Linked DNA regions of Homo sapiens: regions 2 and 3 are each linked to region 1. The links come from fine-mapping of genetic effects on gene expression. A gene starts in region 1. Each other region holds a variant in brackets. All regions are shown on one strand. Distances are between the middles of the regions. Region 1 holds the start of HK3 (hexokinase 3). Region 2 overlaps UIMC1 (ubiquitin interaction motif containing 1). Region 3 holds the start of LOC124901145 (a long non-coding RNA gene).

What was found. PIP is the estimated chance that this variant, and not a neighbour inherited with it, causes the effect.
Region 2: its variant is fine-mapped to the expression of HK3 in whole blood (TOPMed, PIP above 0.99).
Region 3: its variant is fine-mapped to the expression of HK3 in whole blood (TOPMed, PIP 0.91).

Annotation. Positions count from the first base shown.
Region 1 is chr5:176,892,830-176,903,205 of GRCh38, reverse strand. It overlaps HK3 (hexokinase 3), which reads left to right and starts at 3,860. Exons shown (of 19, transcript NM_002115.3): 1 at 3,860-3,939; 2 at 7,021-7,142. The coding sequence starts at 7,047. RefSeq lists an enhancer at 2,539-3,040.
Region 2 is chr5:176,950,709-176,958,708 of GRCh38, reverse strand. It overlaps UIMC1 (ubiquitin interaction motif containing 1), which reads left to right. Exons shown (of 15, transcript NM_001199298.2): 7 at 555-616; 8 at 2,674-2,750; 9 at 7,132-7,235. Among named protein-coding and RNA genes, the nearest start is that of UIMC1, 52 kb to the left of the region's middle. The variant A/C (reference allele first, on the strand shown) is at 3,761.
Region 3 is chr5:176,981,409-176,991,784 of GRCh38, reverse strand. UIMC1 (ubiquitin interaction motif containing 1) reads left to right here. Exons shown (of 15, transcript NM_001199298.2): 2 at 9,162-9,316. The coding sequence starts at 9,170. It overlaps LOC124901145 (a long non-coding RNA gene), which reads left to right and starts at 9,323. Exons shown (of 2, transcript XR_007059073.1): 1 at 9,323-10,376. RefSeq lists a silencer at 6,830-7,030. The variant AC/C (reference allele first, on the strand shown) is at 6,637.

The DNA.
Region 1 (10,376 bases):
ATAATGTGGATAAAGCTTTGATCCAGCACAATGTCATCACATAGAAGAATGAGTTAGTGGCAGCAGTTATTAATGTGATGCTAGTCTATGTGTCACAAATGATGTTGCACTGAGGGGTGGAGGGATGGGGGACGGGTGCAGATGCAAGAGGAGATAGTTTTCAGAGGAATGTGTACTCAGGAGGGACTACTCGGGCTCCATCAACCATCAGGCTTCCACAGGAAACTTGGGTCCCAGGCATCTAGAGTTCTCCTAGGGCCCCTGGATTTCTTTTACTTCTGAAAGATGAGAAATAGCTGTTCTGCTGATGCTGCCAACTCACGGAGAGCTGGGAAGCTCCATAAACTTCACAAGCTATTGCCGTAAATTGGAAGAGATAGAGGGGGACTTCTCTTTGTTAGGCGCTGTAGTTGTGCTTTTTCATTTAGTCCTTACAGCAGCCCCAGCAGAGGTTGTGCCTCGCCCATTTCCCCCAGGCATTCGCCATTCTGCTGTATACCCACAGAGTCCTGTTGCAAGTACCTGAGACTCTGCCTGAGGACTTCTCTTGGTTTGTGTTGGCACAAGCTGAGAGTACCAGGGAGTTAGTGCCCCTGGGACAGCTCTCAGCCAGTGGAAGTGGGAGGATAGATACCCCAGCTTCCTCACTCAGTGAGGGACAACTCTAAGGCACATTCTACCTATTTCTCAGGGTTCCCTGTGGGAGTGAACCTCTCTAAGCTCCCAGTAACAATTAACGTACACTTCCTTGGCTTCTTTCTCTTCCTACCTGGCTTCCAGCTCCTCTTCTGTATTTTCCTGATCAGGACTGGGACTAGGGTGATGAGCCTTTATTCTTGGGTTCATCTAAGTGCAAGGTTGGCACCCGTATGAACCTGAGAGGGTCTCTTTACATTCTGTACCCTAGGCATATCATTTGCATTGCCCTGATTCTGGCCCTGTCCTGGATCACTTCCCAAATAAAGTTATTTGCATTCAAATTAGGTCTGCCTCTGGGTTTACCTAACCTAAAGCAAATCCTATGAAGACATCAGTCTCCAAGTTTTATACAAGGAAAACCGAGGCTCAGAGGAATAAGAAATTTGTCTAAGGTCTTTCAGTTGGTAATGAGATGGGATTTTGAAACCAGGTCTGCCTGACCCCAGAGCTGAAGCTTTCTGTACTATAGCACACTACTTCCTACTTCTCATTTCAGTCACAAAACTAATGACTCAAGGGAAATTTCAGGTTTGGATGAGCTCATTTTTGCCTGTGAATCAGGGTAGCTTTGGCCTTAGGTTGTTAGCAGATGGGAATTTGGGGAGGGGAAGGCAGGTAGTAAGTGGATGAGAGGGTTGTAGTTGTCAGTGGAAAGATGGACTAGTGGAAAGACTGCTGAAACCATATGCACCAGGAAGACAGTAAGAGCTTGCTTGCTTCCTCTCAGTTTCAAAAGCCCTGGACTTTTTTTTTTTTTTTTTTTTTTTTTGAGACAGTCTTGCTCTGTCACCCAGGCTGGAGTACAGTGGCGTGATCTCGGCTCACTGCAACTTACCCTGCCTCCCAGGTTCGAGCAATTCTCTTGCCTCAGCCTCCCGAGTAGCTGGGATTACAGGTGCACACCACCACGCCCGGCTAATTTTTTTAATTTTTAGTAGAGACGGGGTTTCACTGTATTGGCCAGGCTGATCATGAATTCCTGACCTCAAGTGATCCGTCCACCTCGGCTTCCCAAAGTGTTGGGATTACAGGCGTGAGCCATCATGCTTGGCCAGCCGTGGACTATTGAGATTGTGGGAGGGCTCTTCAATTTAACAAAAATTAATTGATACTTGTTCCTTGCCAGATAAAGAACTGAGGTCTGAGGCTGCACGGGTGAATAAGAAACATTCTCTGGGAGCCCATAGTACAATGGGGAAGAAGAACACATAAACAGATGCCTTTAATAAACAGATATAAATGCAGTGATACAAGAACATGCATCATAATACGGAACCAATAAGCAGACCACACTCAGCTGGGGTCGGCCAGGAGGAGCTTTTCAGAGAAGGGCTCCTCATTGTCGTTGATGATTATAATTTAAGGGATGAGGAAAAATGAGGTGAAAAGGTGGGAGAGGCCAAAGGGAGGGTCATTCCAGACAAGTCAGTGCAAACAAAGACACAACAGAAGTAGCTCGATGTGTGTAGGAGAGCTGCAAGGCACATTCACGGTATAAAGGGTGTGGAACAAATTGGGGGAGCTTATTGAGGATCTCTGTGCCTGGCATGGGCACTGTGAGTGGTGAGAAGCCTGTGAGCAAGCGCAGAGGGAAGGCCTGACCTCCCAGCCCATCGGCAGTGCTCTGGTTGTGCCCACCTCTCCCCCAGCAAACTGCCTTTCCTCATTCCTTAGCTCCATCTCTACAGTTGGAGATTGGCACTAAGGGGCTATGAGGGAACCTCGTGAGGACTTGTCCTTCCCTTTGTTGGTCAGTGGCCATCTGGTGTCTGAAGAGAACCGCTGGCAGCTGCAGTGCCTCTGCTACAGCCAGGCTGTCCCAGCTGCTCACAGACCTCAAGCTCAGCCATCCTTCTCCCTCCACTGGCCTTGACCCAGACTTTCCCTGGCATTCTGACTAGGGAACCAGGACCCCTGCTCCTGGGGTCTGGACACAGACCTTCCAGAAACGCAGATGAAGAGCCCTGGCCATGCTTGTCAGGGGCATATCCTCACCCTGGCTCAAGAAATGGCAGGCTATCTGCATGAATCACAGCTGGGCCTTTCATAGTCAGTTCCACATTCTCCTCTCCCAACTGAACAAAGTTGAAAGGGACTGGGATCCCAGGCTAGGCAGGATGCTGTGTTGTTTGTGACAGCCACTCTACCCTCTGCCACCCCATCCCCCACTTCCCTGCCTTTCACAGCCTATATGCCTGGTTGGTACCCAGTAAACTTCACAGCAGGACTGATGTTTGGCATGTTTCCTGGCCTCTTCATGCCACTACTGATAGAGGAGCCACTATCTCTGGTCTCCATCCTGATGTCATGTGGAGGCCTACTATCTGTGGATAGAGTTACTGCTGACAAGGCAGCCTGAAGCTTTAAAGTGTATCCATGCCTTCAACAAAGATTGTTGCAGGCTGTCTAGTATTCTACATTGGTGCCCCAAGGTTCTGTGCCTTTGAGGAGAAATTCCCACAGAAAAACAGCTTGTTCGCCAATAGCTCCACAGCAGCCTAACACTCCCCTTCTTCCAGTAGAGAAGACCTAAGATGTGAACCTACTCTCCCTGCGCAGGCTACAGACTAAAGGCTAGACTCCGCAGTCTGCCTGTCACCTCCTCTCCCACTATATATTCCTACCTTGGTGTACCCTCTTCAGGCGCCTGGAGCTGCACCTCATTGCTGTGTGTGTGTGATTTGTGGTTGTGCACATGCTCTCCACTTTGTCAAGGACCACTTTTGTCAGCATACTGCTGTTCTTTCTTCAAGACTCAGCTTCTTCAGCTAGCCCTGCCCACTCTCGGCAGAGTCAGTCCCTTCCGCTTGTGCTCCCACATTGCCTCTTGCTCAAAAGTACTTACCATAACCTTTCCAGGCTAGGCGCCTCCAGCTCCTTCTAGGGGCGAGCCACCACCTCAGAACTCACTATATTTGCAAAATAAACAGCCCTCAGCATTGTAGAGGGAATGGCCCAAAATCTTAGACCCAGTTCAACGCTCCACTTCGCGGTAATCATCTTGCTCAAGTTTTCACCACAGCCTTGCCTAGCCTGGGCTACTCTTAGGGCAGGCTTGGAAGGAAGTGCAGCTTCCTGAATTAGCTGATGTTTGGTAAGTGGTGGTGGAGGAAAAGGGTGGGGCTTGAGGATATTATAACTCGGGTCACCCCTGAGTGTTGCTTTTGGTCATTGGGGTGCCTCATATTGCCAGACAAGAGCTCAGACCTGAGGAGAGTGACTAGCTTCTCTGTGTCCCAGGTAAGCACTTCGGTCTAATTACTGCCTGCTCCTTCCACAGCTGTCTTGTCCTCATCCCTCCTGTTTGGCTCACACCAGGGGAAGTGGACACTGGAAAGATTAAGCCAGCTGGTTCTCTTTCTTTGTTTTTGAGATGGGGTCTCTCTCTCTATCACCCAGACTGGAGTACAGTGGCACAGTCAGGGCTCACTCCAGCCTTGACCTCCTGGGTTCAAGTGATCCTCCCACCTCAGCCTCCGGAGTAGCTGAGACTACAGGCGCACACCACCACACCCAGCTAATTTTTGTTATTTTTTTCTAGCGATGGCGTTTTGCCATGTTGCCCAGGCTAGTCTCACATTCCTGGGCTCAAGCAGTCTGTCTGCCTCAGCCTCCCAAAGTGCTGGGATTACAGGTGCAAGCCACCACACCCAGCCTGCCAGCTGGTTCTCGATGGCAGCTCCCAACATCAGTAGAGGTCCCTGGGGTACTTTTCAGGAGGAAAACTCACTTCGTGTAGCCCATTCAGCTAAGGGAAGCCACGGGGCCCTTAGGCAAACAGACCCTGGGCTCTGGGGATACTGCAGTGAAGGAGACATGTCCCTCCCCACAGGGAATCTCAGTGGGAAGAGACAGAGCTGAATACATTTACCTAGCATATAAATATTAGGGCTACTTGGGGATTGCTTCACAGATTCTGTCATGTAAAAATGCTGAATAAATATTGAATGGATGAGGGAATGAATGAGTGAGTGAATGAATAAATGAACTAGCTGGGCCTTGAGAAAGACACGTGTGTAGCCCTTAGTCCTTTTCGAAGGTAATTGCCCCAGTTACCTCATTTTATCCTTGAAATAGACCTGCAGCATAGAACAAGAATTCCACACCCCTATTTGACAGATTTGGAAACTCAGCATAGGTATGTATGGTTTGGGGAGATTTATCAGAAGCTGATTTGTTGCTTTATTAAATAAAAAACTACCCACTCCCCTTGCTTCCAATTTTGGAAAGGCACATTAGCACATACCTATACCAGACCCTGTGCCGGCCATGAGTGCAGAGGTGATCAAGTTGGGTGGGGTAAGGAGGTGAAGAAACTAGAAGCAGAGCTATCAGTTTAGGAGGCTGTTGTAATAATCAGGCCGGAGGATGGTCTGGTGCAGTGTGTGGGAATGGGGAGGAGGGGATGCAGAGGAGAGCTCTTAGAGAGCCTGAGATCCAATTGCATAGAGGAGGTGAGGGTGAGGGATGCGCGCAGGCAGCCCGAACGGCCGTGTGAGTGAGCACACTTCGATGTCTCCAGTCAAGGTGGAGAACAGAAGAGCTTTGTGGGGGTAAGGTGATGGAAAAATGAGTATGGCTTTGTTGAATTTGAGGAGCTTCTCCACCATCCAGATAGTGATGTCTAACAGACCACTGGGATTTAGGATTTGGCTGAGGCCAAAGGTAGATTTGGGAGCCCTGACACAGCTATTAATGAAACCTTGGGAATGGGCGAGATAAAGGGAGTGTAGAGGGAGGGCATGACCGAAACTTGGGAACCCCATTGTCTGAAGGAACAGAAATTACTGATGAAGACTACGAGAGACTCAGGAAGGAGACCTAGGAGAGACTGGCCGTGAAAGCCAAGGACAGGGGGAATTCTGTAGCAAAGAGAATGACTACTGGCTTTGCATGCCTGAGAGAGGGCAGCAGAGGTGGGGACTGAGGAAAAGGCTTGGGATTGGGCAGTTAGGAGGTCACCAGTGACCACGTGGAGGGCAAATTAGTGAGCATAGTGGGAGTAGGCAAGGAGGGGAGTGTAGGGGTGGGAAGGTACTATATTTCCAGAAGTTCTGCTGTTGCAAGGAAGGGAGGTAAAGTGACTCAGTGGACAGATGTCTCTTCCCATATTGGGCCCTCTGCTGTGTTTCCCTTTTCCCCCACCCCTAAAGAGCACCTGACTCACTGAGGGCTCCCTTGGGACTATGGAAACAGCAATACCACCTCCAGCTCGGATGAGCGAAGTATCTGACATTTCTACAGTTCCTTACAGTGTGCAAAGGACCACTAACTCCTTTAATCCTCACAAGAACTGAGCTTTTCATGTTATAGAGGAAATGGAGAATCATAGAGTTTCAGTTCAGATTCAACTACATAAATCTGAATGCACATCTGAGCAAGTTCCTTTGCTCTCGTGATCTCATTTGCCCCACACAACCCTTTGATACATGTTGGTCCCATTTCACAGATGAAAAGCCTGGAGGTTGAGATGGGGTGCAGCTGCCTTGTGGAGAGCAGGGTTCCCACCTCTGAGTACAGGGCTCTTTCTGCTCTGCATCACTTCACTGTTAAAACCCACCTGATGTTTATGTTGCACACTACATCTCATAAAGCATTTCCCCAGGTGTTATTCTATTTAGTGCTCACAACAACCTTGTGAGGGTAGATATTATTTCCTCCTGTTTTATGGATGGAAGCTGAAATTCAAAGAAGTCATAAATGACGTCCAAGGTCAGGTCACTAGTGGAACCCCTTTCTGAAGCACAGATCCACCCCTGTCCATGACCCCTGTTGCCTTCAGGATGAAATTCATGTGCCTTAGCCTGGCACAATGGCTGTCCCTTTTCCAGCCTGCCTGCTTCTCTGGCAGGTCTTTGGTTCCCTCTTTGTTCCAAGCCTCTAGCATGTCCCTGACCTCCCAACCACAGCAGCATGTCCATCTATTACATGTGGCCATCTTGCTCACTGCCTGTGCTAATCATACTGTGATTGTTGATGAGACTGTGAGGTCCCTGAGGGCAGGGCCTAGGTCTGCTTCATCTGTACCACAACGTCCAGCATAGCAGGCATCAGGAACTGGTGAATGTCAATGAATGACAGAATTAACGAATGGCATTTGGACTGAAATCAGCCTTTCCAGTGCTCTCTCATTAGACATGCTTGTGAAAAACAAGGGCCTTCTGGTTGACTGCTACAGGATCTTTGATGGTTGGAGGTTCTGAATTCTGCTCCCAGCTTCCTTCCTGGTCCCCTTCAGAAGGAAGGAAGTTGGTCTGGGTTACAGACTCCTAGGGCCTATAGAGTAAATGGTTGACCCAGGTTGTCCCTTTTCTCCCATAGGTGGCCACCTTCCACTGTGGAAGCTCATGGACTCCATTGGGTCTTCAGGGTTGCGGCAGGGGGAAGAAACCCTGAGTTGCTCTGAGGAGGGCTTGCCCGGGCCCTCAGACAGCTCAGAGCTGGTAAGTTCAGCACTGGGTTCCTGTTTCATGCTTGTCTAAGGCCTTCAAGAGCAGCGTGACTGAAGCTGCCATGGGGCCCTGGGCTCTCACCCATGCAGCCCCTTTCCACTGAGCTTTTCATATCTGAGCTGGTAACGATCTCCTTTCATGCTCCAAACAACTGCAAGGTTGGGCTGATCATCTTACAGGTGATGAAGAGGGATATAGAGAAGTGTTATGACTTGAGTTTAAGACATGACAGGAGCTTGAGCTGAGGTGTTTCAGCTCCAAACATGTCATTTTTGCCACCTTGCCACACAGGTGCCGCTCCCGCCCCAAGTGGGTGACACAGTCTAGAGTGGACTTTCTCAGGGTTATCTGGTCAAAAGTTGTGTTCTTGAGACCTTTCCTTTCCCGCCTCTCCAGTTCCTCCTGCATGTCTCCCTCAATGTAGCCGCTACAATCAGGCACACAGACGATTTTAGTGCCAAACTCATGCCTGAGGCTTGCTCAGAAGTGAGTTTCTTCTTTTTCTGTCATCTTGACCAAGATTTAGAAGCTGTCTCATACCACACCCTTGAGCAGGAAACTCTTGTGTAAGCCATTTCATATCTCTTAGTCTCTGTTTCCTCATCAGTAAAATGGAGGAAAATAAAGTCTAATCCTCCCCACCCCCTGAAGGCTAATGGAGATAAAGGACTTGCCTATGGCCGGGCGCGGTGGCTCACGCCTGTAATCCCAGCACTTTGGGAGGCCGAGGCAGGTGGATCACCTGAGGTCAAGAGTTCAAGACCAGTCTGGTCAACATGGTGAAACCCCGTCTCTACTAAAAATACAAAATTAGCCGGCATGGTGGCACATGCCTGTAATCCCAGCTACTTGGGAGGCTGAGGCAGGAGAATCGCTCGAACCCGGGAGGCAGAGGTTGCAGTGAGCCAAAATTGTGGCAGTGCACTCCAGCCTGGGCAACAAGAGCAAAACTCCATCTCAAAAAAAAAAAAAAAAAAAGTCCGGGCGCAGTGGCTCAGGCCTGTAATCCCAGCACTTTGGGAGGCCGAGGTGAGCGGACCACAAGGTCAGGAGATCAAGACCATCCTGGCTAACACGGTGAAACCCTGTCTGTACTAAAAAATACAAAAAATTAGCTGGGCATGGTGGCAGGCGCCTGTAGTCCCAGCCACTCGGGAGGCCGAGGCAGGAGAATGGTGTGAACCCGGGAGGCAGAGCTTGCAGTGAGCCAAGATCGTACCACTGCACTCCAGCCTGGGTGACAGAGCGAGACTCTGTCAAAAAAAAAAAAAAAAAAAGGACTTGCATAGAGGAGGTGCCCACTAAAGGGTACTTGAGTCATTCTCTGCAGTTTCTTTAGTTTTCTGGCATATTCTGACATCCACTTGACTAGGCTTGTTGCCCAGATTGTGGAGGCATTACCCCTCGCTGCATTTCATGCTCCCACTTCCCCCTTGTCCAACCTGTACCCCAGACCCTGCTGCAGACAGTTCTTCTGTGCCTGACCCACAGCCGTGCCTCAGGAGTGACAGCGGTGGCTGGGCCACAGTGCCTGCCCAGCCAGGACTGGCTCTAGGGCCTGCTGTCATCTCCTCCCTCGCTTCTTGCCCCTCCCTGATGACACTCCTGTGCAGGCCCACATCTGCCCTGCTGGCTCCATCACATACACCTGCGGTTGAAAGAATCCCTTTCGGCTTTGGGGGACTTCACAGGGACACCAAATTTCCCATGGTCCTGGACCCCCAACTCAGCACCACAGGCCTTACCCTGTGCTCCCCTTGCCATGACCTTAGGTTGAAAAAAGTTAGTTAACCACGTGTGGCCAGTTCCCAGTACCATCTCAGAGGCCCTTCCCCACCCCTTCCACCAGGCTTCTCTTTGTCATCAGAGAGGGTATGGAGTCAGGCTCTCCAGGCTGGGTGTGCTTTGTGCTCTGAGGACAGGGAATCCGTGTTCCACTGAGCATCTCCTATGTGTGACACTGTTCCTCCACTTCAGGTTTGCTGTCGTCTCAGTCCTCATGGCATCTCTGAGAAGTAGGTACTATTGTTCCTGCTAGATAGAGGGGTTGCTTGCTCAGAGAGGTGAGGTGATGGGCCCAGGCCAGCAACACAGCAAGTTGGTGACAAGAGCCAGTGTTGAAACCACATTGGACTTCACATGCTCTCTAATGCCTTTCTCCTTGCTCTTCTGTCTGAGGTCTCTCCCTGCTCTTCCTGGGGTGTCAGGGGTGGCTCCGATAGCTTCTCCTGGCTTGTGTGTGCCTCACCAGGATCTGCCAGGGAAGTCCTTCTGTCTTTCTTGCAGTTCTGCTGTCTTCTAGTCTCTCCTCCCGAACATCTCAATATGCCCAAGAGGAAAAGGAAGAAAAACAATTTGCCCAAGCCATTGACTTCTCCGTGACTCTACTGTTTTCATGAAGCAATACTAAAACGCCCCTCCCATCCCAATGGCACTTGGCACTTCCACATACATTACAGCCTTTAATTCTTATGCCACCACAACCATCCAATCAACAAATCCTGCTTCCAGCTGGTGCTCCTCGTGGCCCTCAGATGTAGCCTTGAGCAAGACATAGTCCCTGGCATTGGGGGACTTCCAAGTACTATTATTTTCTCAGTTTTGCACGAAGAGGTGACTGAGGCTCAGAGAGAGGTGTGACTTTCCCAGGACTGCAGAGCCAGAAAAAGGGAGTGCGAGGACTCAGCTGTAAGTTTTCTCAAGCCGGATCATCTGGGGTTTCTTTCCAGCAACTTTCATCAGCCTTGAGTTCTTTTCAAGGGAACTTTCTAGGTTTTATAAAGCTTCACATTGACATAGAAACATCTCTGCATTCAGGTAGATATGGGTTCAAATTCTCCCCTGCCCCTTCACAGCTGCTTGGCCCTGCAGATGACTTGCCCTCTCGGAGTCTCCGTTTCCATATTTCTAACACTTGGGCAGCTGGGGCTCAGAGGGGCAAGGCTGAGACCCCGCCTGTCCTGCAGCTCTTTGACTTTGCTGCCCACTGCCTGAGTTCCTGGATGTGCAGCCTGTGAGCAAACAGGGTCTGCAGCTTGGCTTCAGCTTCTCTTTCCCTTGTCACCAGATAGGCCTGGTCAGGGTGAGATAGAGTGGGCATGGGCACCCCTAGCAGGCATGGCTGCTGGAAGCATGTGCTGTAAGGCAAACGTGTAAGTGGACATCTGGCACCCCAGTTAGGATGATTCGCCTTCTTAGGGATCTGTTTCCCATTCTCTTCCTAAA
Region 2 (8,000 bases), 57 kb before region 1:
TTTGTAGCAAAAAGAATCTTTGTAACCTTCCCTTTAGATGTCCTGTGTTATGGCTTGGTTTTTCTCAAAGATCATAGATTGCAGTGTTTATCTCAACTCAGTATTTCCTTTGAAAATTGAACTTTTCTCTATATTTTCCTTTCCCCCATGCAAACTTTTTGATTGTTTTTCTGAAATCATAATTCATTTGACTTACCAGTTAATATTGATACAGGTCTTGCATGTTATGAAGTGCATTGTGTACATTATCTTGTTTAATTTTCACAACACTCTGTGAGGCAATTGTTAATACCCATTTTAAGATGAGGAAAGAGATTCAGATGTCATTTACCCAATCACAAATTTAGTAAGTGATTTAGTTCTGATTTAAATACCAGTCTTCTGACTTTACAGGATGTGCTTGTTTTATTGACACTTACTGGCTTATGGAAAATATTTTCTTCTTATTGTTAATTGTTGAGGGAGAACATTGAACAATTAAATTTTTTTAAAAAAGGAAGAGAAGCCAGTTCACCTGTGCCTGTATATTTAAGATACTACGTATTTCTTTGCAGTCTTCCCAAGGGATTGTTGAAGAAACTTCTGAAGAGGGAAACTCTGTACCTGCTTCACAAAGGTGAGAGATTATATGTTGCTATGCATTCTCCTCTGATGGTTGCCAGCATAAGGGAGATGAACCACATGAGTGAGACTGTACGTGGACAGCTTGCCAGAGAACTTTTAGCTCTTTTATAAGTGAAGACTAGGAGAAATTTTATTAGTATCTCTAAGTTCTCAGATGTGCATCTCATAGAAGCCCAGAATATTAAGAGCTGGAAGAGATCCTAGAGGTCATCTTGTCCAGGCCAGCTATCTTGGCATAAATCTCATTTACATTATTTCTGAAAAGCGGTCACATCCTGCAATTCTCTTAACTAATTACACTAGTTTTCTATGCCAATTTGAAGGCTCTAGACTGATTTCTTTATAGTCCTTCTATTCTTAGCCCCTTTCTCTCTTTTCCCCAACTCTGCTTATGCTTATTTTATCTGTATATCTAAACCTTATACATCTTTTAAATTTACTCTTGAGACTTAACATCCTCTTCAAAGTCTTCATATTATTCAGGCCACACAGGACCTGTGTCACTCTCACTGTCTGTCCTGTGCCACTTTTAATCCGTTTGTGCCTCCTATCTCCTGTAAAGGATGGTATTTGCATTACCTCCTCCATTGTTCTTGCTGATTGATTGATGGGCTTACCTTCTAAGTCTTCTTACTTTAATAATAGATAGCAGTTGATTAATTATAAACTGCACTATTAACTGGATCATGCTTCCAGTTACTTTCCACTTGCCCTTTTTATCTAGTAGTTGAGTTTTGAGACTTTCTCAAGAGCTTAGTTTTGAACTGCATGACTGTTCTCCCATATGAGAGTTGAAGCCCACTTGCCATTTGCTGTAGTCAAGGTGGTGGTCTTTCTTAGGCTTCTGGTTGATAGTACTTGGTATTCCTTCCTGGGCTAAAGAATATGGCTTTGGTTTGATTTTCCTGCTGTTAAGACAGTTTTGGAAGTGGTTTTAACAGAGTATGCCTTTACTCCCTATAGGCCTCTCTGCTTTATTGTGGTGAGCCTTGTGCAGAGCAGATGTAGGTTTTAATAAATGATTATACACTTTGTCACCAGGAGAGAGTTGGAATCGCAGGCAATGTGGTTTGACTTCAAATTGATTAGCCCATTTTATAAATGTCAGAAAATTGTTTTGTGATGGACCCTTTGAATAGAGCACTAATGTTACATGCAGAGTAAACTGTCTGGCTGGGGTTTATAACAAATGCTATGAGATGTTTTATTTAGAGATAAATCACTTGTGGTTTTCTATCAGGATTTAGTTATTTATCATGAGTTCAGTTGTAGCTATTCTGTCTTCTCTGTGGTTCTTGGTTGATGTGAGGATTTTTGTTTTCAAGCATCCTCTTGCATACTTGATCAAACTAATCGTAAAGCCCTGTGAAGCATGAGGGGGCTAGCTCAGATGCTCAGATCAGCCATGTATTCCTATGTCAGGAAGAGATTGCACTCCATGAGCAGTCAGGGAAAACCAGAAGGTTGGATGAAGGAAGCCATTCATAATTAAGTTTTTGTTAGAAAAGAGATTCAATTTATGTGGGCAGATTTTTGCTGTAGGGCAGTTTGGAATTGTTTTTTATTTTTGTTGCATGGAAAGCAACATCTTGAGATAAAGAGGAGATTTAACTGCAAAAGGAGGAGAAAGTGTGTTGTCAGAAGAATCTCTGTGTCTTCTCTTGTCAGTTTACAAATCTCTAGCCTTCAGAAGGCTGAGATGGAGGCTATAAAACACCTTTGACATCCTTATATTGGAGTGGAGTTTTTGCCTTCTCTGATATTCACAGACAGTTCTCACCCTTCAACCTTCCTTTGTGAAAACTCCAAAAGGGAATTTGTTTTCATTCAGTGATTTCACTGGAACTGAAGTTGTAAGCATATTTATTTTCCATATTTCTGGTCTGGAGTTTTCAGTACTGATTCCTTGCTTTCCTATTGTGCTTTTGTGGTATTAGGCAGCAAGTATCTGTGATTACCTGTGGCTTTGTGAGTGACTCACCATTGCTTTTGGCTCTATGTTCTGATTTATTTTACTGGGAATTCATTTGGGATTTGGTTCTCTTTCAGTGTTGCTGCTTTGACCAGTAAGAGAAGCTTAGTCCTTATGCCAGAGAGTTCTGCAGAAGAAATCACTGTTTGTCCTGGTAAGTACCCCACTGTGATTTTACTGAATTTCTGATACCTATTTACCTTTTCATGCCTATTAATTTTCCTCTGACTCTTCAAACCTACTCTCTGGAGGTTTGTATGTAATTGATACGTGTATGTACATGTCTCAACACTCGTATGCGTATACACATATAGGTGTTTTTAATGGCCATTGGCTTTTATTCTCAATCTTTTCTCTCCTTAGGGGTAATTTAGTTTTGAAATTAACATGACTTTTTTTGTCTTCTTGATTGTTTACAGGCCTCATCAGAGATGGCAGCAAAGCATCAGGAATAGCATTTGCTTAACTGTACATTCAGAGCCTTTTGTTATTTAATTTGTTTAAATTATTTTAAATTAAATTGTTTTAAATTATTTTGTCAGCCAGCCTGGAGTGCGGTGGTGCAATCATAGCTCACTGCAGCCTTGAACTTCGGGGCTTAAGTTCTCCCTCCTTGGCCTCCCAAAGTGCTAGGATTACAGATGTGAGCCACTGTGCCTGGACTTCACAGCCTTTTAGTAGTTAGTTTTTATATTGCCATTTGTTGGGGTCTTACTGCATAGGAGGTTCAGAAATTGAGTTTTGTGCATGTTCTGTCATTATTTTTAATCTTAGACCTAAGATGCTTAACCTCGTTAAGTGCTTTAGTTTGCTTTTTGTTAATTGTAAAAATTAAAAGATAGGTACTTTGTTTTAGGTAGAAGAGATGCTCATTCAAAGTTGCACATGGATAGATTTAGATATACAAAATAATGTAAAATGAACTAAGATACTTACCATCTAAGAAACTCCTGAATCATTGTATAATATGAAGCATTATTTTGTGATATGAACCACTACTTTCTAAGGAATTTGTTTTAGACTATATTTTCCTTTCTGGCTTTTCTGAAAAGATCATTAGCCTCATTCCTGTGAGATTGAGGGACTTCCTACTGATGTTTAACTTTGAACAGCAAGTATACAGATGTTGCCCTAAGTCACATCTGGTTTTCCCTCAGGTCTCGT[A/C]TAGCCTATAAGGATTAGAGATAATCATAGTTTTCTTATTTTGGTTTCCTTCAATGTTTTTCCACAGAGACTCAAACTTAGTTTGCATGTAATCTAGGAAAGACCTATAAATATTTTTAAACATCTGGCAGTCTATCATAAAGGTCTTTATTTATTTTAAAAATCGGACTATGTTGGCTTTTTTCTTTTTTTTTTTTTTTTGAGACAGAGTTTTGCCCAGGCTGGAGTGCAGTGGCGCAGTCATGGCTCGCTGACTGTAACCTTGAACTCCTTGGCTCAAATGATCCTCACTCCTCAGCCTCCCGAGTAGCTAGGACTACAGGCATGTGCCACCACACCTAACTAATTTTAAAAATTATTATTATTATTTTTTTTTAGTAGAGACGAGGTCTTGGTGTGTTTCCCAGGCTGACCTTAAACTCCTGAGCTCAAGTAATCCTCCCGCTTTGGCTTCCTAAAGTGCTGGGGATTAGGCATGAACCATCGTGCTCAGCCTATGTTGGTTTTTATTGAAAGTGGCTCCTTAATTCATTTGAAATGTGTTTGGATTACTGCCTAACAATACCCACTAAGAGACTACACTACCGAGTGCTCAGATTTTGGCAGGAGCACTCAAGAATACTGTGCTACCTTTGTGAAAAGAAAGCTTTCCCCCTCTGTCTGGGACTACTGACTTCCTAGAAGGAAATCACTCAGTCTGTTTAGGATGATGGCGTGTGACATCACCATGGGATCTTGCAGGAGGAACCTGCAAATATATTGATCTTGAAAGGCCTAGTTAATGAGAGGGAAAAGCAGGCCCTTCATACTGAGGTTAGATAGCTTTTATGATCATGACTTGCTGTCATTAGCCTGCTAATTAAGTCCAACTGTTTGCTGACATAAACCACTTCTAAATGAGATTGCAAAAGGTATTCATTACATTAATGTTCCTTTTGCTAAGAAAGTATAACTGCTTCACCATGAAGCCAAACTCCTGGGTTTCTTTTTAAATATATAATTTAGAAGTTATATATATAAATTATCTGAAAAAATTTGTTCCAAATGGGTGAAACACATATTTAGTGTAGTAGACTGTTACCTGTTTACTTTTGTTTCATATTTCTGACAGTTCAGGAGTCTAATATTTAAGATTACAATATCTTTTTAGTGTTACTTAGTTGAAGAAGCAGGATTATAGCCTTATGCCTACATTTTGCATGCTTCTAGCATTGCTTTTTTCTGAGAAGCTAATGCCCTCTTAGTTGGACATTTCAGCCATTCACAGAAAGCATAATTGAAGACTTTTTATTATTGCAGTAATCTAAGCAGTGAATGGTTCTTACTTTTAAATATGCTGAATATCTTTTTGAAAATACCTTTAGGGAAAGTTGACAGGATTTTGAAGTTTATGTCCTGTAAGCCTTTTTCCAATAAGGTGTGTGTGTGTGTGTGTGTGTGTGTGTGTGTGTGTATGTGTCCAGTTTTCAAAAAAATTTGTGATGTATTAAAATATAATTAATTCTAGAAATGTATTTAATCCTTTCTTAATGATTCAGAAGATACATTAGAAACTTGCAGATGCCCTATTTGCCTGACATTGGCCATTTATTGTTTTGTGAAGCAAAGTGCTAATTAGAGGTACAGCAGGTATAGTGTCAGATAACAGAGAACTTACTGGATTTGCATTCTGAAATAAATGTCTGGTTTTAGTTTGGGTTCCTGTAACAAAATGCTCTAGACTGAGTGGGTTATAAGCAACATAAATTTATTTCTCACAGTTTTGGGGGCTGGAGAGTCCAAGATCAAGGAGTTGGCAGATTCAGTGTCTGGTGAGAGCCAGACAACTTCCCGCTGTGTCCTCACATGGTGGAAAGAGGGTGAGAGAGCTCTCTGGGGTCCCTTATAAAAGGGCACTAATCCCATTCTTTTGAGGGAAGGCCCTATGCTCATGACCTAATTACCTTCCAAAGGTCACATTTCCTAATATTATCACATTAGGGGTTGGGATTTCAACATACGAAGTTCGGGGGGTACACAAACATTCAGTCTGTAATGTTTCTTTTCCAGATACATTGGTGGTTTTGAAAGATAATTACTATTTTTTTTATTGTTGTTATATTAAGTGATATGTGTCTACAGCAGAAGTTGGCAAACTTTTTTTTGTGTGTGTGAGACAGTGTCTCACTCTGTAACTCAGGCTGGAGTGCAGTGGTGTGATCATAGCTCATTACAACCTTGAACTCCTGACCTCAAGTGATCCTCCCGCCTCGTCTTCCCAAAGCATTGGGATTGCAGGCATGAGTGACTGTGCCCAGCCAAACTTTTTAAAAATAAAAGACTAGATAGGAAATATTTTAGGCCCTGTGGGCCGTATAGTCTGTTGAGACTATTTGGTTCGGCCATTTTAGTGCAAAAACAGCCATAGACAGTACATAGATGAATGAGCATGGCTGTGTTCCAATAAAACCTTACTTAGAAAAATAGGCAGCTGACAGGATTTGGCCCATGAGCTGTATCTAGTTTTCTGGCCCCTGAACTAGACTACAAGGGACCCCATCTTAGATTTTCATATTACTGATAGCGAGTATAATGCCTGGGACTTGATGTTCAATTATTTGTTGAATTAATAGATGCTGCTTAAAGAATATATTAAAGAAAGGCATATCTTTGTCTAGAATGTATATTCTATTTCTGGTCCCAATTTCTGTTTTTGCTAATCATCTCTTTAACCTCAGCACTAACATTGGCAGGTTCTTGTTTTCTGTCAAATCAGTATACTTTAAAACTAGAATTACAGTGGAAATAAGCCAGTTGATCAGTTGGTCAATGAATAAACAAATTGTGATATATCTATACAATGGAATGCTACTCAGCAGCAAAAAGTATGAACTATTGATATTATGTGACGACATGGGTCCATCTCAGACACATTATACTAAGTAAAAGAAGCTGGACACAAAAGACATGTGATTCTATTTATATGAGAGACAAAATTATAGGAACATAAAGTAAACTGGTCATTATAAAGAGTTCATTGCAGTGACCAAAGAGGTAGGAGATTGACTGCAGAGGGGTACAGAGAACTTTTTGGGGTGTTGGAAATGTTTTATATCTTGATTATCGTAGAGGTTACATGGTATAAATGGTAGTATATAAATGGTATACATTTGTCAAAACACATTAAACTGTATACTGAAAATTTATGAATTCTGTTATTTGTAAATTATGCCTCAGTAAAGCTTTAAGAAGAAACAAACTAGATCTATTAATATATTGCCACCACAGTATTGTCATATCCTAAACTTTAGGTGAAAATAGGCATGTTTGTTTTTTTAATTATGAAAACACAAAATGAAAATTAATGGGATTTTAACTTTTTTAAATTACAGAGACCCAGCTAAGTTCCTCTGAAACTTTTGACCTTGAAAGAGAAGTCTCTCCAGGTAGCAGAGATATCTTGGATGGAGTCAGAATAATAATGGCAGATAAGGAGGTGAATATTTTCCTCTATATTTTTTCTCAGTGGTTTCTTTCCGTTGGCAGTCCTCTCTCTGATGCAACGTTGACATTGGCTGAAAAGATTTAGGTGGCAGGGGGTTTTAGTTTTGGGGGCCCTTATGTTAGGGAGAGATTTTTATAGTTAAGATTAGTTCAGCATTGTTTCTAAAAATAACAGTAGTTACCATTTCTTGAGTACTTTTGTATGCATTATTATTTCTATTAGAGATGGGGAAACAGAGGCTTAGGATGTTTAATTTGCTCTAAATCATACTACTAATAATGGTAGAAATATAATTTGAACACGGGTTTGAATCCAAAGTTACAGGGCATTTTTTATTATGTACCAATAAGTAACAGAGACAAACAGTCTTGGAAAAAATTACTATATTTATATTATGATGTATACATAACTTCCAGCCCTAATTTGATCAGAAATGCAAAGTCAAGATAGCTGTCTGATAAAATAAATCTATTTGCATCATTACCTTTCCTCACTTTACATATCTGGCAGTAACCATAAAGCTGATTGATACAGGTTCATACTTCTGATTAAGATTCTCGGTGTGTATATTTTTCCTTTTCTTTTCTTTTTTTTGGGATGGAGTTTCACTCTGTTGCCCAGGCTGCAGTGGCAGTGGCACGATCTCGGCTCACTGCAACCTCTGCCTTCCTGGTCCAAGTGTTTCTCCTGCCTCAGCCACCCGAGTAGCTGGGATTACAGGTGCACGACACCATGCTCAGCTAATTTTTATATTTT
Region 3 (10,376 bases), 89 kb before region 1:
AATTTTTTGTATTTTTAGTAGACTTGGGGTTTCACCGTGTTAGCCAGGATGGTTTCGATCTCCTGACCTCGTGATCTGCCCGCCTCGGCCTCTCAAAGTGCTGAGATTACAGGTGTGAGCCACCGCGCCTGGCCTTTTTTTTTTTTTTTTTTTTGAGACGGAGTTTCACTCTTGTTGCCCAGGCTTGAATGCAATAGTGCCACCATGCCTGGCTAATTTTGTATTTTTAGTAGAGATGGGATTTCTCCATGTTGGTCAGGCTGGTCTTGAGCTCCCGACCTCAGGTGATCGAGAGGCAGTCTTTCTGTGTTGCCCAGGCTGGTCAGATCTGTCTTCTCAATTTGCCAGATTTCATATTCTTTCCCCTCAGTTGTCTTTGCTGTTTCTCCCCAAAGAGATTTGCTCTTTGGGTAGTCTTCATTATGGTAGTAGCAGACCTGAATCTAAAAAGGTAGAGTAAGGTGAATTAAAACTGAGGCCGGGCTTGGTGGCTCATGTCTGTAATCCCAGCACTTTGGGAGGCTGAGGCAGGTGGATCACGAGGTCAGGAGATCGAGACCATCTTGGCTAACACGATGAAACCCCATCTCTACTAAAAATGCAAAAAAAATTAGCCGGGCGTGGTGGCGGGCGCCTGTAATCCCAGCTACTCAGGAGGCTGAAGCAGGAGAATGGTGTGAACCTGGGAGGCAGAGCTTGCAGTGAGCCGAGATAGTGCCACTGCAGTCTGGCCTGGGCGAAAGAGCGAGACTCTGTCTCAAAAAAAATAAAAATAAAAATAAAAAATAAAATAAAAAATAAAACTGAGGACTTGATTAGTCATGATGGCTTGTGCTTCTAATCCTAGCATTTTAGGAGGCCAAGGCAGGAGGATCGTTTGAGGCCAGGAGTTCAAGACCAGCCTGGGCAACACAGCAAGACCCCCATCTCTTTAAAAAAAAAAATTAGCTGAGTGTTGTGGTGTACTCTTGTAGTCCTACCTACCTGGGAAGCTGGGGCAGGAGGATTCTTTGAACCTAAGAGTTACAGGTTGCAGTGAGCTATGATCATACACATTGCATTCAAGCCAAGGCAACAGAACAAGCCCCTATCTCAAGAAACAAAAACATAAATATAAAATCTATTTATATTAGAAATATGGCAACATTTGTACAAAGTTGCATGTGTTTTTTCCATTTCTGTTACAGTTTGGGGTTTAGAAAATTCACTTCTTGCGAATTAATATAAAATTAATTTATTTTAGGAAGTACAAATATGTCATCTTATTTGTGTTTTAATTTGTGTAATGGTAACTTGATAGGTTTTTAACCTTTTCCTGCTGCTATAACAGAATATCTTAGACTGGGTAATTTATAAACAATACAATTTTTTTTGTTCACAGTTCTGAAGTCTGGTAAATGTAAGATCAAGGTGCCTGATGAGGGCTTGCACTGTGCTTAAAAGATGGGACCTTCTTGCTGTGTCTTCACATGGCAGAAGGGTAAAAGGGGCAAACAGGTTCTCTTAGGCCTCTCTTATAAGGGCACTAGTCCCATTCATGAGTGCTGTGTCTTCATGACTTCCCTAAGTCCCCATTTCTTTCTTTGTTTTTGTTTTTTTTTTTTGTAACAGAGTCTCGCTCTGTTGCCCAGGCTGGAGTGCAGTGGCTCGATCTCGGCTCACTGCAAGCTCCACCTCCCGGGTTCACGCCATTCTCCTGCCTCAGCCTCCCGAGTAGCTGGGGCTACAGGCTCCCGCCACCACGCCTGGCTAATTTTTTTGTATTTTTAGTAGAGACGGGGTTTCACCATGTTAGCCAGGATGGTCTCGATCTCCTGACCTCATGATCTGCCTGCCTCGGCCTCCCAAAGTGCTGGGATTACAGACGTGAGCCACTGCGCCTGGCCCCAGGCCCCATTTCTTACCAACACATTGGGGATTAGATGTCAGCATATGAATTTTGGAGGGACACAAACATTTAGACCATAGTGGATAGGTCATATCTAGTTATCTAGTGAGATGTTACTGCTTTAGTATGAATTTATGTATACTTAAATAATAACTAGCTACCTCTGCATTGCATATGCAATAAATATTCTGTTAACTGTATTTAAATACAGAAGTTAAAAGTATATTTCTTTTTTTTTTTGAGGCAGGGTCTTGGTCGGTTGACTAGGCTGGAGTGCAGTGGTGTGATCTTGGTTCACTGCAACCTCCATCTCCTGGGTTCAAGCAATCCTGCCCCAGCCTCTCCAGTAGCTGGGTCTGCAGGCATGTGCCACCACACCCAGCTAATTTTTGTATTTTTAATAGAGATGGGGTTTCACCATGTTGTCCAGGCTGGTCTCAAACTCTTGTCCTCAGATGATCCTCTCACCTTGGTCTCCCAAAGTGCTGGGATTACAGACTTGAGCCACTGCGCCTGGCTAATTTTTTCATCTTTGTAATTTCTTGTTCTTTAGTCATTAAAAATATGCATTAAATGCAGAAAAGGACGTTTGTGTGTCGAGTTTTATCATGGGGAATGATTTTGTAAATTGTAAGCATCTGTGTGTGTATGTTGTTACTATCCCTTAATTTAGAATTTTTTAATCCTTTAAGTGTTTTTTTTAGAAAAACTTTAATGCTAGTATTGTACAGACTACTTCTGATAATAAGATGTAACAACCCCCTTAGGAGTAATTGAATGGTTTGAGAAGTTTGTTACAAAGTTAAGGTGGCTTTATTTAAATCTGTGATTGAGTCAGTGATTCTCTGCTCTGGCTGTAAAATAAAATCATCCGGGGCTCCCCTTTTTAAAAAATTGAGGTAAAATTCACCTAACAGGCTGGGCACGGTGGCTTACCCTGTAATCCCAGCACTTTGGGAGGCCAAGGTGGGTGGATCATGAGGTCGAGAGATCGAGACCATCTTGGCCAACATGGTGAAACCCCATCTCTACTAAAAATACAAAAATTAGCCTGGCGTGGTGGCACATGCCTGTAGCCCCAGCTGCTTGGGAGGCTGAGGCAGGAGAATTGCTTGAACCCGGGAGGTGGAGGCTGCAGTGAGCAGAGATCGCACCACTGCACTCCAGCCTGGCAACAGAGTAAGACTCTGTCTCCAAAAAAAAAAAAAAAAAAAAAATTCACCTAACAAAATCTACCATTTCAGTCATTTTAAGTGTACAATTTGGTGGCTTTTAATAAATTCACAGTGTTGTGCAATTACCACTTTCTAATTCCAGAACATTTCTATCATCCCCAAAATAAACCTTATATCCATTAAGCAGTCATTGTACATTTTCCCCTATCTCATCTTCTGGTAATCACTAATCTGCTTTCTGCCTATGGATTTGCCTATTCTGGATGTTTCTTATAAATAGAATCATACAATATGTGCCTTTTATGTCTGGCTTCTTTCGCTTGGCATGTTTTCAAGGTTCATCCATGTTGTAGCATGTATTAATACTTCATTCCTTTTGTTTCCCCATAGTGGCTACACCATTTTACATCCTATCAATAATACAGTGTACTAGAGTTCCAGTTTCTCCAGCATCCTTACCAACACTAGTTATTTTCCATTATTTAAAAAATAGCCAGCCATCAGAGTGGGTATAAAGTGATATTTCATTGTGGTTTTGATTTGCGTTTCCCTCATGATTAATGATTTGAGTTTTTTTTTTTTTTTTTTTTTGGACAGGGGCGTAGTCTGTCACCCAGGCTGGAGTGCTGTGGCACGGATATTGGTTCACTGCAGCCTTGACCTCCTGGGCTCAATTGATCCTCCATCCTCCCACTTGAGCCTCCCAACTAACTGGGACTACAAGTGCGCCACCACATCTGGCTACATTTCGTATTTTTTGTATAGGGTTTTGCCGTGTTTCCTGGGCTGGTCTCAAACTCCTGGGCTTAAGTGATCCACCAGTCTTGGCCTCTCAGAGTTTTGGGATTACAGCCCACTCTGCTGGGCTACTTTTACGTTTGATGTCTTTTTTTTTTGTGAGACAGGGTCTTGCTCTGTTGCCCAGGCTGGAGTGCAGTGGTGTGATCACAGTTTACTGCAGCCTCAACCTCCTGGGCTTAGGTGATCCCTCCTCCTTAGCCTGCCAAGTAGCTGGGACTACAGGCATTAGCTGCCATGCCTGGCTAATGTTTATTTTTATTTTATTTTTTTGAGACAGGGTCCCACTCTGTCACCCAGGCTGGAGGGCAGTGGTGTGGTCTTGGCTCACTGCAACCTCTGCCCTGGGTTCAAGCAGTCCTTTTACCTCAGCCTCCTGAGTAGCTGGGACTACCTGTGTGCACCACCATGCCTGGCTAGTTTTTTTATTTTTATTTTTTGGTAGAGATGGGGTTTCACCATGTTGGCCAGGCTGGTCTCAAACTCCTCACCTCGAGTGATACACCAGCCTCAGCCTCCTAAAGTGCTGGGATTATAAACATGAGCCACTGTGCCCAGCCAGAAATATAATTTTTAAAATTTCAGTTTTGATTGTTTATGTCTAGCATATAGGAATGCAATTGGTTTTTGTATGTTGACTTGTTTCCTGCATTGATACAAGGCAAGATAACCTTGATGAACTGTTGATTTTGTTGTTGTTTTGAGATGGAGTTTCGCTCTTGTCGCCCAGGCTGGAGTGCCAATGGCACGATCTTGGGTCACTGCAACCTCTGCCTCCCGGGTTCAAGTGATTCTCCTGCCTCAGCCTCCCAAGTAGCTGGGATTACAGGCGCCCGCCACCACGCCTGGCTAATTTTTGTATTTTTAGTGGAGACAGGGTTTCACCATATTGGCCAGGCTAGTCTCAAACTCCTGACCTCAAGTAATCTGCCCGCCTCAGCCTCCTGAAGTGCTGGGATTACAAGTGTGAGTCACTGTACCTGGCCTATAATAGTTTTTTAATGTGTTTCTTAGTGTTTTTTTTTAAACACAGGTCATGTCATCTGCAAATCGTGATAGTTTTACTTCTAAGTTGAGTATCTTTTATTTCTCTTTGCTTAATTGTTCTGCCTAGAACCCTAAGTATAATGTTCAATGATTAAAGCAGACATTGTTTTTTTTGAGATAGAACCATGCCCTGTTGCCCAGGCTGCAGTAGCTGGGACCACAGGCATGCCACCATGCTGAGCTAATTTTTTAATTTTTTGTAGAGACAGGGTCTTGCTATGTTGATGAGGCTGGTCTCTTAACTTGTGGGCTCAAGCCATCCTCCTGCTTTGGTCTCCCAAAATACTGGGATTATAGGTGTGAGCCAGTGTGCCCAGCCTTTTTTTTTTTTTTTTTTTGGAGACAGGGTCTTGCTCTGTTGCCCAGTTGCCTAGGCTGAAGTTCATCGGCATGATCATAGCTCATGGCAGTCTCAAACACACTCAAGCTATCCTCCTGCCTCAGCCTCTTGAGTAGCTGGGACTGTAGGTGCTCACCAGTGTGCCTTACTTTTTTTTTTTTTTTTTTTTTTTTTTTTGAGATGAAGTCTTACTCTGGCACCCAGGCCGGAGTGCAGTGGCACAATCTCAGCTCACTGCAATCTCCACCTCCTGAGTTCAAGTGATTCTCCTGCCTCAGCTTCTGGATTAGGTGGGATTATAGTCACACGCCACCACGCCGAGCTAATTTTTGTGTTTTTAGTGGAGATGGGGTTTTACCATGTTGGCCAGGCTGGTCTCGAACTCCTGACCTCAGGTGATCAGCCCACGACGGCCTTCTATCCTGTAGACACAGGATGCCATGTCTTGTCTCTACAAAAAAAAAAATACGTTGCATAGGATGGTCTCAAATTCCTGACCTCAAGTGATCCTCCTGCCTTGGCCTCCCAAAGTGTTGGGATTACAGGGGTGAGCCACTGCGCCCAGCTGAAAGGAAACATTCTTGTCTTGCTCCTTGTCGAAAGGAGAAAGCATTCAGTCTTGTACCTTTAAACATGATGTTAGCTTATTAGTTATGGGATTTTTGTAGAAGTCCTTTATCAGGTTGAGGCATTTGGTATTTAAAAAATCTTAACCTAGTTAACATAGTGAGATCCTATCTTATAAGGAATAAAAAGTAAATTAAATTAGCCAGGTGTGCTGGCACACCCCTGTGGTCCCAGCTGCACAGGAAGCTGAGGTGGGAGGGTTGTTTGAGCCAAGGAGGATGAGGCTGTGGTGAGCTACGATCATGCCACTGCACCCTAGCCTGGGTGACAGAGCGAGACCTTGTCTCAAAAAAGAAAAAAAACTTGTAGGTAAATTATAATATGTAGTCAAGAAAAGCAATTATCTAAATTGATGTTTAAAGAACTAGGATACATGACTATATTATTGATACTGAAATTTCACCATGGAGAATGAGATTTGTATATTTATATAGTTGTTTTTTTTTTTTTTTTGAGACAGAATTCCCCTCTTGTTGCCCAGGCTGGAATGCAGTGGTGCGATCTCAGCTCACTGCAACCTCCGCCTCCCGGGTTCAAGTGATTGTCCTGCCTCAGTCTCCTGAGTAGCAGGGATTACAGGCATGCGCTACCACGCCCGGCTAATGTTTGTATTTTTAGTAGAGACAGGGTTTCACCATGTTGGCCAGGATAGTCTCCAACTCCTCACGTCAAATGATCCACCTGCCTCAGCTTCCCAAAGTGCTGGGATTACAGGCATGAGCCACTGTGCCCAGTCTATGTTTCTCTCTATAGAAAAAAAA[AC/C]CATTTTTTCCCTATATTTTTCTAAAAAAAATTCCTCTATATTTTTATTTTTTGTATTTATTGATCATTCTTGGGTGTTTCTTGGAGAGGGGGATGTGGCAGGGTCATAGGATAATAGTGGAGAGAAGGTCAGCAGATAAACACATGAACAAAGGTCTCTGGTTTTCCTAGGCAGAGGTCCCTGTGGCCTTCCGCAGTGTTTGTGTCCCTGGGTACTTGAGATTAGGGAGTGGTGATGACTCTTAACAAGCATGCTGCCTTCAAGCATCTTTTTAACAAAGCACATCTTGCACTGCCCTTAATCCATTTAACCCTGAGTTGACACAGCACATGTTTCAGAGAGCACGGGGTTGGGGGTAAGGTTATAGATTAACAGCATCCCAAGGCAGAAGAATTTTTCTTAGTACAGAACAAAATGGAGTCTCCTATGTCTACTTCTTTCTACACAGGCACAGTAACAACCTGATCTCTCTTTCTTTTCCCCACATTTCCCCCTTTTCTTTTTGACAAAACCGCCATCGTCATCATGGCCTGTTCTCGTTGGTCGCTGTCTCTTCGGAGCTGTTGGGTACACCTCCCAGATGGGGCGGCCGGGCAGAGGCACTCCTCACTCCTAGATGGGGCGGCCAGGCAGAGGCACTCCTCACTCCTAGATGGGGCGGCCAGGCAGAGGCGCTCCTCACATCCCAGACGATAGGCAGCCGGGCAGAGGCGCTCCCCACTTCCCAGACGGGGTGGCGGCCGGGCAGAGGCACTCCTCACTTCCCAGACGGGGAGGCCGGGCAGAGGCACTCCTCACTTCCCAGACGGGGCGGCCGGGCAGAGGCACTCCCCATTTCCCAGACGGGGTGGCGGCCGGCAGAGGCGCTCCTCACATCCCAGATGGGCCGGCCGGGCAGAGGCACTCCTCACTTTCCAGATGGGGCGGCCGGGCAGAGGCGCTCCTCACTTCCCATTCGGGGCGGCCGGGCAGAGGCGCTCCTCACTTCCCAGACAGGGCGGCCGGGCAGAGGCACTCCTCACTTTCCAGACAGGGCGGCCGGGCAGAGGCACTCCTCACTTCCCAGACGGGGCGGCCGGGCAGAGGCACTCCTCACTTCCCAGACGGGGCGGCCGGGCAGAGGCGCTCCTCACTTCCCAGACGGGGCGGCCGGGCAGAGGCGCTCCTCACTTCCTCCCAGACGGGGCGGCTGGGCAGAGGCACTCCTCACTTCCCAGATGGGGTGGCCGGGCAGAGGTGCTCCTCACATCCCAGATGGGGTGGCGGCCGGGCAGAGGCACTCCTCACTTCCTCCCAGACGGGGCAGCCGGGCAGAGGCGCTCCTCACATCCAAGACGATGGGCGGCCAGGCAGGGGCTCCTCACTTCCTAGACGGGGTGGCGGCCGGGTAGAGGCGCTCCTGACTTCCCAGACGGGGTGGCCGGGCAGAGGGGCTCCTCACATCCTAGACGATGGGCAGCCAGGCAGAGACACTGCTCACTTCTTAGATGGGGTGGCGGGCGGGCAGAGGCTGTAATCTTAGCACTTTGGGAGGCCAAGGCAGGCGGCTGGGAGGTGGAGGTTGTAGCGAGCCGAGATCATGCCACTGCACTCCAGCCTGGGCAACATTGAGCATTGAGTGAGCGAGACTCCGTCTGCAATCCCAGCACCTCGGGAGGCCGAGGCGGGCAGATCACCCGAGGCCAGGAGCTGGAGACCAGCCCGGTCAACATGGCGAAACCCGGTCTCCACCAAAAATACAAAAACCAGTCAGGAGTGGCGGTGCGTGCCTGGAATCCCAGGCACTTGGCAGGCCGAGGCAGGAGAATCACGGGAGCCTGAGGCAGGGAGGTTGCAGCGAGCCAAGATCGTGGCAGTATCAGCAACAGAGGGAGACTGAAGAAAGGAGGGAGAGGAGGAGGGGGAGGGGGAGAGGGAGAGGGCTATATTTTTAATGAGTAGTAGACAAGTTAAGAAATGCAGTTTTGCTTCTGTTAGATAGGGTTATCTTTTTCTTTTACAAGATTAAATTGAGGCTGGGCATGGTGGCTCACTCCTGTAACCCCAACACTTTGGGAGGCCAAGGCGGGCAGATGACCTGAGGTCAGGAGTTCAATACCAGCCTGGCCAACATGGTGAAACCCAGTCTCTACAAAAATACAAAAATTAGGCTGGATGTGGTGGCTCATGTCTGTAATCTCAGCACTATGGGAGGCTGACACGGGTGGATCACCTGAAGTGAGGAGTTTGAGACCAGCCTGGCCAACATGGTGAAACTCTGTCTGTACTAAAAATGCAAAAATTAGCCAGTGTGGTGGCGTGTGCCTGTGGTCCCAGCTACTCGGGAGGCTGAGGCAGGAGGATTGCTTGAACCTGGGAGGCAGCGGTTGCAGTGAGCCAAGATCGTGCCATTGCACTCCAGCCTGGGCAACAAAGCGAGACCATCTCAAAAAAAGACTAAGTTGAATAGCTTCTAGAAAACTTATACTTTAAGTAAATTATGATCTTTTTATTCTAGACAAAATTATTGTCCTTTTATTCTAGACAAAAGGATGCCACGGAGAAAGAAAAAAGTTAAAGAAGTCTCCGAATCTCGGAACCTGGAGAAGAAGGATGTGGAAACTACCAGTTCTGTCAGTGTGAAGAGGAAGCGTAGACTTGAGGATGCATTCATTGTGATATCCGATAGTGATGGAGAGGTTAGTGAAGTAGAGCTGAAAAGTAGAGCTGTAGCTCTCAAACTATGCTTCTTTACCCATGGGGAGTTTGTTTCGTGACTGACTTCACCTTAATGCCAGCTCACCAAAACCATGAAATTTTTACTCAGCTTTGTTTTAATTTGTAAATGGAATGAAGAATTACTTAAGGTAGTAATCCTGTTGCTTGGTTGAGGATGGATCATAGTTCTTCAGTTTTATAATATAGTAATCCAAAGTGGCATTTTGGAACTATTTGAATCATCTAAATCAATTGTAAATCTTAGTTTTCATGTGTCTAGAAAGTGAGAGGAAAAACACGTGAATGTTCTTAAGTCTCTTGATATGTTCTACATATAATAGCACCTAGCCATCTGTAGCTGTTTAAAAATAACTAAAATTAAAAATCAGCTTCTCTGTTGCACTAGTCACATTTCAAGTGATTAAAGACACATAAGGCTAGTGTCAGTTGTATTAGACAGCAGAGCTATACAACATTTTTATCATTTTAGAAAGCTTTATTCTCCGGAATAAAGATTGTAACCTTTTTCCTTTATCCTGTATTTCTATTTGTTTATTGGAGTTTTCTGCCTGCCTGCAGGTCTCATCTCAAAGGCAGTGAATTAAGTCATTGTTTTTTCCTTCAGATTTTCTTCTCTTTCTCCTATATATTTTTTTTTTCTAGAGCCAGGGTCTCCCTCTGTCACCTAGGCTGGAGTGCAGTGGTGTTAGCTCAGCTCACTCCACCTTCCTTCTCCTGGTCCCACCTCAGCCTCCCATGTAGTTGGGACTACAGGCTCAAGCCATTATGCCTGGCTAATTTTTGTATTTTTTTTTGTAGAGATGGGGTTTCGCCATGTTGCCCAGGATGGTATCAAACTCCCATCCTCAAGCAATCCTGCCTAGGCCTCCTGAGGTGCTGGGGTTACAGATGTGAACCACTGCATCTGGCCAAAAAATGACATATTTTTGGTTAGCAAGATTGAGCATTTCTTTACATCTTTATTGATTTTTCAGAAACGTTTCTTGGCCGGGCACGGCAGCTCACACCTGTAATCCTAGC